Regions from separate parts of the Homo sapiens genome. Here region 2 is linked to region 1. The links come from fine-mapping of genetic effects on gene expression. A gene starts in region 1. The other region holds a variant in brackets. All regions are shown on one strand. Distances are between the middles of the regions.

Region 1 (2,897 bases):
GACCCCCACTGGGCAGCGTCAGGGTCCAGGAGCCAGGGCCCAGCCAGCCCCACACTGGGGGTGGTGATCACCGAGGATGGCGATGGGGCTGGACAGGACCAAGAGCAGAACAGTTCACACCTGGGGAGCCGGGAGGGGCGGCCTGGAGCTGGGGCTGGGACTGGGGTTTGCCTTTGAGAACATGCAGCAGAGGCAGGGCAGAGCGAGAGATGGAGACAGGGCCCAGAACAGGTGGAACTCACCTTTGAGGACCAGGGAGCGGAGGCAGGACAGGCTCTGAGGCAGCTGGGCCAGGGTGGCCTCCAGCAGCTGAGGGTCCTCGTGAGTGCTCAGACGCAAGAATTCCACCTGCAGCAGCTGCAGAGGCTGCTGGACACACAGGTGCAGCAGCTGCTGGCAGCCCCCGGGGTACAGGTCCAAGCTCAGCCGGTTGCCGCCCAGGAAAGGCAGCGCCCTGGACCCTGCGTCCGAATCCTCTGAAGCATCTCCTGCGGCAGCAGCTGCCTCCAGCTCTGGCCCCTCCACCGTTGCAGCCATCGCCCACCGACGGTCCTTGGAGGCCAGACATGTCCCAGCACGCAGGCAGGCCTGTCCAGGCAGCGCCCGGGGAAGCTGCAGAGGCAGGAGGAGGAGTGAGCGGGAGCCGGGGTGGGCCCTTCTCTTTGGGGAAACAGGGACTCTGGATGGAGTGGGGAGCTCTAGAGCCAGGCCATCTGGGCCTGGGCTGCAGAGTGGGGGAGACCTTGTGGTCACCCTGAACCCCGGAGGCCTGGGTCACCACTGGAAAGAGGGTTGGGGAATGGGACCGCCATGGCTCGCAGGAGCACCGGGCAGGGAGACCTCGCTATGAGCAGCAAAGCCGGGGTAGTGAGGCTTCAGTCCTGGTCCTGGAAATCTGGCCAATGGAGCCGTGGAGCTGCGAGGTCATAGGGGCTGTTCCCCAGTCCTGGAGATGAGTCCCCCTTCTATTTACATCCGTTTTACCAGGAAGGCCGTGACCCTCCCCTACCGCGGGGGTGACTGCGCCCCGAAAGTCAGGGAAGGCCGTGTAAGGGTGAGGGCCTGGGGCGTGAGCCATTGGGCAGCTTCGGGGTCCTGGGGCCGGGACCCCAATTCGTGAGCCCCGGAGGAAACCTCTCCCGGCCTTTCCAGTTCGGTCCACTGGGGAGGGTGGTGCACCGCGCACCGCTCAGACGGCGTGGGGGGCGGGCCCCAGCCCCGAGGCAGGCTCGGGATCCCCCGGGCGTCGGGGATGGGAACGGCCCCCAGCCTCCCAAAAGCAAACGTGTCCCCGCCGCCCCCTCCGCCCGCCCAGGCCGGCGCGTACCTGCGCTGCAGGCGGCGCGCAAAGGGTGGCTGCTCAGCGGGCGCTCGGCGCCTGGGATCCCGCCGGCGCGTTTCTGGGTGGGCGGGGACTGCAGACCCCGCCCCTTGGGCCCCGCCCCCTCGGGACGCGCCCCCTCCGCCGGGCTGGGGTCCACGGGGGAGGTCTCCCGGCTCCTCCCCGACCCGCCTTCCCTCCGCCTGTCGCAGCCCCGGAGACGCGGACGCGACCCGTCCATCTGCCGAGCCGCCCGCGCAGCAGCGCTCGGCTTCCTGTTAGTCCGCGGGGTCGGAGCCGTACAGCCTCCCCCGCCCGGAAGGCCACGAAACCCGCCCTTTCCGAGGTTCTCGGGGCCCCGGGCCGCTCCGAGGCAGACCCGGCCCCAGGTGCGTTCCCAGGCCGGGGTGACGGGGGTACTCTTGCCGCTGCCCCGCACCCACCCCTGCTACAAGCCGGAACAATTGCAGTGTCCTTTCCAAACCAGCCCAAACGGCCTCCTCCGGGAAGCCTGCCAGGACCTCCTCTCTGGGCCTGCAAAGACCCTTCCTTTCGAGCCATCACTCTGGGCCAGAAGCAGTGAGCCTCCTGGCACTGTCTCCTTCAATCGCGCAGGGGAGAAGGAGGCGTTAAGAGATAAAATATTGAGCGGGCGCGGTGGCTGACGCCTGTAATCCCAGCACTTTGGGAGGCCGAGGCGGGTGGATCACGAGGTCAGGAGTTTGAGACCAGCCTGGCCAACATGGTGAAACCCCGTCTCTACTAAAAATACAAAAATTAGCCGGGCGTGGTGATGCGCGCCTGTAGTCCCAGCTACTCAGGAGGCTGAGGCAGAAGAATGGCGTGAACCCGGGAGGCGGAGGTTGTAGTGAGCCGAGATGGTGCCACTGCACTCCAGCCTGGGAGACAGAGCAAGACTCCGTCTGAAAAAAAAAAAAAAAAAAAATCAGATATTGCCCGAGGCCCTGTAGCTGGTGAGGGTCAAAGCCAAGAACCTGAAATCTGCCCTGTCCGCCTTCCCCACCAACATGATACCCCCGAGCGGGCCTGTGCTTTATTCACCAGCTTCCTCGCCCAGGAGAACAGGTACTTAGGGAGGGAACAGACACCACCAGCTATGCCTGCTTCTTTCCTGAGGTCATATCAGCGGCTCCTCCTTCCCCACCAACATGATACCCCCGAGCGGGCCTGTGCTTTATTCACCAGCTTCCTCGCCCAGGAGAGCAGGTGTTTAGGGAGGGAACAGACACCACCAGCTATGCCTGCTTCTTTCCTGAGGTCATATCGGCGGCTCCTTCTTCCTTCCATTTCCCAGCTACCACCATCCCTCCCTCTGGGACAGGCAGGTCTCTTCCAGGCCTCCCTGCTTCCATTCACCCCAGCCCCTTCCATGTAGGGCCTGGAGGGATCTTTTTTTTTTTTTTCTTTGAGATGGAGTCTGGCTGTGTCCCAGAGGCTGGAGTGCAGTGGCGTGATCTCGGCTCACTGCAAGCTCCACCTCCAGGGTTCACACCGTTCTCCTGCCTCAGCCTCCTGAGTAGCTGGGACTACAGGCGCCCACCACCACGCCCGGCTA
Region 2 (2,897 bases), 40 kb before region 1:
GGCCGGCTGTGACTTCCTCACCATCTCACCCAAGCTCCTGGGAGAGCTGCTGCAGGACAACGCCAAGCTGGTGCCTGTGCTCTCAGCCAAGGCGGGTGAGGCCCCACTGCCCAGCTGTGGCTCCTGCTCGGGCAAGGCCAGCACTGCCGTGCCACGCTGCCCTGTGGGTGATCCCTCCCACCTGTGGGGCGAGCTCATCTTGGGAGACATGAGGGTGAAGTAGACCTCAACGGAGGGCTTGGCTTTCCTAACACATCTCACTCAAGTCATCAGCCAAGGCTCTGTGGGCTGAACCCCACTTCCAGCGTGAGCCTTGCTGGGGCCAAGGCCTGGCCCTGGTGGGAGATGCTTGGGTGCAGCAGTTCAGGCCCTGAGCCCAAGGGGCCAAGGTGGGCAGGGACATGGAGCAGGCATGGAAGGCTGGTTCTTGTCCCCCAGCCCAAGCCAGTGACCTGGAAAAAATCCACCTGGATGAGAAGTCTTTCCGTTGGTTGCACAACGAGGACCAGATGGCTGTGGAGAAGCTCTCTGACGGGATCCGCAAGTTTGCCGCTGATGCAGTGAAGCTGGAGCGGATGCTGACAGTGAGTGTTGTGTGTGGGTACCTACATATGCCAAGCCCTATGAGAGCCCGGGCCTGGGCGTCGGGGTTCAAGCTGGGCAGAGTTAAAACTTTGGTGAGACCCCAGGTCTCATTCACGTGCTGTCCAGCAAGTGGGGCCTGTTGAGGCCATCCCAGGGTGGAGGGTGCATGGCACCCAGGGGTGCCCCCAGGATGCTTGGTGGGTCCTGGCTCCTCTCTGGCCTGTGTGGTGACTGTGGTATTGGCCACCCTGTGGCCGTGGCCCCCACACAGAGTGCAGACCCCACAAGGGCCTCCCTCCTTCCACATGGTGCCTTGTGAGGCTTCAAGGTGCAGAAGGTAGGGTGGGGAGACACAGCTCGTGCTCTGTTTGTTTCTAGGAACGAATGTTCAATGCAGAGAATGGAAAGTAGCGCATCCCTGAGGCTGGACTCCAGATCTGCACCGCCGGCCAGCTGGGATCTGACTGCACGTGGCTTCTGATGAATCTTGCGTTTTTTACAAATTGGAGCAGGGACAGATCATAGATTTCTGATTTTATGTAAAATTTTGCCTAATACATTAAAGCAGTCACTTTTCCTGTGCTGTTTCATTCACTGTCTCCGTCCCCTTTGTCCCCTAAGCATCACCTGCCCCAGCTGTGATGGGCTGTAACCTAGGTTAGGACTCAGAGATGGGGTCGGGGTCAGGGTACCCCAGACACA[AC/A]CCACCGCCTGGGCCACCACCTGGGAACCCAGGTCAGGGTTGTTGCTGGGAGGCCATTGGTGGAGTTAGGCAAAGGGCAGGCTTCTGATGCCAGGGGCTCCCAAGGTGCTGTCCCAGGTGGGTCACAGATGAACAGTCTCAAGCCTCCAAGCGTGGGCAGATGTGGATGCCTCTCAGAGGAGCAGTCCCAGCCGGACCCTCCCTCCTGCTCTTGAGGGCCTGGGCCTCCTGTTCCCTGTCAAGGCTGCCCTGCCCATGCCCCCCGCCCCCCTCCTGTCCTGTTGTGGCTGAGACCTTACATGGGATGCCAGGTTCCTGCATGGGGTCATGGTGCCACCTTGTGGGGGCAGCACGACATGCACCAGCCACTGGCCTTGAAGTCGCCACCCCCATTTTTTTTGTTGTTTGAGACGGAATCTCACTCTGTCGCCCAGGCTGGAGTGCGCCCCGGGCAGTGGTGCGATCTCGGCTCCCTGCAACCTCCGCCTCCCAGTTTCAAGCGATTCTCTTTACCTCAGCCCCCACAAGTAGCTGGGATTACAGGCGCCTGCCATCATGCCCGGCTAATTTTTTGTATTTTAGTAGAGACAGGGTTTCACCATTTCAGCCAAGCTGGTCTTGAACTCCTGACCTTGTGATCCACCCACCCCGGCCTCCCAAAGTGTTGGGATTACAGGTGTGAGCCACCATGCCCGGCCTCTCCCTGTTTTTCAATACACGGCCTCACTCTGTTGCCCAGGCTGGAGTGCAGTGATGCAATCTTGGCTCACTGTAGCCTCCACCTCCCAGGCTCAAGTGATCCTCCCGCCTGTAGTTGAGACTACAGGCGCGCACCACCATGCATGGCTAATTTTCTATTTTTTGTAGAGATGGGGGGTCTCACCACACTGCCTAGGCTGGTCTCGAACTCCTAGGCTCATGCGATCCTCCTTCTGCGGCCTCCTAAAGTGCAGGGATTACAGGCCTGAGCCACTGCACCCGGCCACCTTTACGGATCCTACAGCACTGGGCTGTAGGATGGAGCTGCAGCTTCTCACCCTGAACCTAAAACAAGCTACCCTACCTTACACCAGCCATCTGGCCACTGCCCCTCAACTCCAGTCTGGGTTGGGCATGCCCGCCCATCCAGGGTGCAAGAGGGGACAACTCGGGCAGAGCAGCAGGCCAGGGAGGCAGCTGGGCTGCCAGTGCCCTTGATCAAGACCAGTGCAGGGCTCCTCCTGGGGTGGAGAGCTGAGTGGGCAGAGCCCTCCCCACACCAACCCCCACTGCTGAGGAGTCCCTCCCACCCTTCAAGGCTTCCCACAGGAGGCCAGGCCTCTGCCTCCGAGCCGGTCAACAAGCTAAGTCCTAAGAGGACATCAAAGGTCTTGTGGCTCCCAATTATTAACAGCACCACTATCTCCAAGGAGGCCCAGCAGAATGGGGCTCTGGGGATGTGACTAAGTTTGTGAGTGTCGTTTGCAAACATCAAGTTCACCCACTTGCCCCTATGATTCAGTCATCTTAGAACTGTGAAACCATCACCCCAAAATGAAATCTCATACCTATTTGTTCCCAGCCTCAAACAATCTATTTTCTGTCTGACTTACATTTTCTGGATATTTCA

What was found. PIP is the estimated chance that this variant, and not a neighbour inherited with it, causes the effect. A credible set is the group of variants that fine-mapping cannot tell apart.
Region 2: its variant is the best candidate, but not a certain one, in a credible set for the expression of PIDD1 in fibroblasts (GTEx, PIP 0.66).

The regions. Positions count from the first base shown.
Region 1 is chr11:803,852-806,748 of GRCh38, forward strand. It overlaps PIDD1 (p53-induced death domain protein 1), which reads right to left and starts at 1,380. Exons shown (of 16, transcript NM_145886.4): 1 at 1,328-1,380; 2 at 243-612. The coding sequence starts at 537. RefSeq lists enhancers at 310-1,007, 359-428, 509-648 and a silencer at 1,009-1,728.
Region 2 is chr11:763,850-766,746 of GRCh38, forward strand. It overlaps TALDO1 (transaldolase 1), which reads left to right. Exons shown (of 8, transcript NM_006755.2): 6 at 1-95; 7 at 439-584; 8 at 964-1,163. The coding sequence ends at 996. Among named protein-coding and RNA genes, the nearest start is that of GATD1, 12 kb to the right of the region's middle. RefSeq lists a silencer at 1,490-1,903. The variant AC/A (reference allele first, on the strand shown) is at 1,288.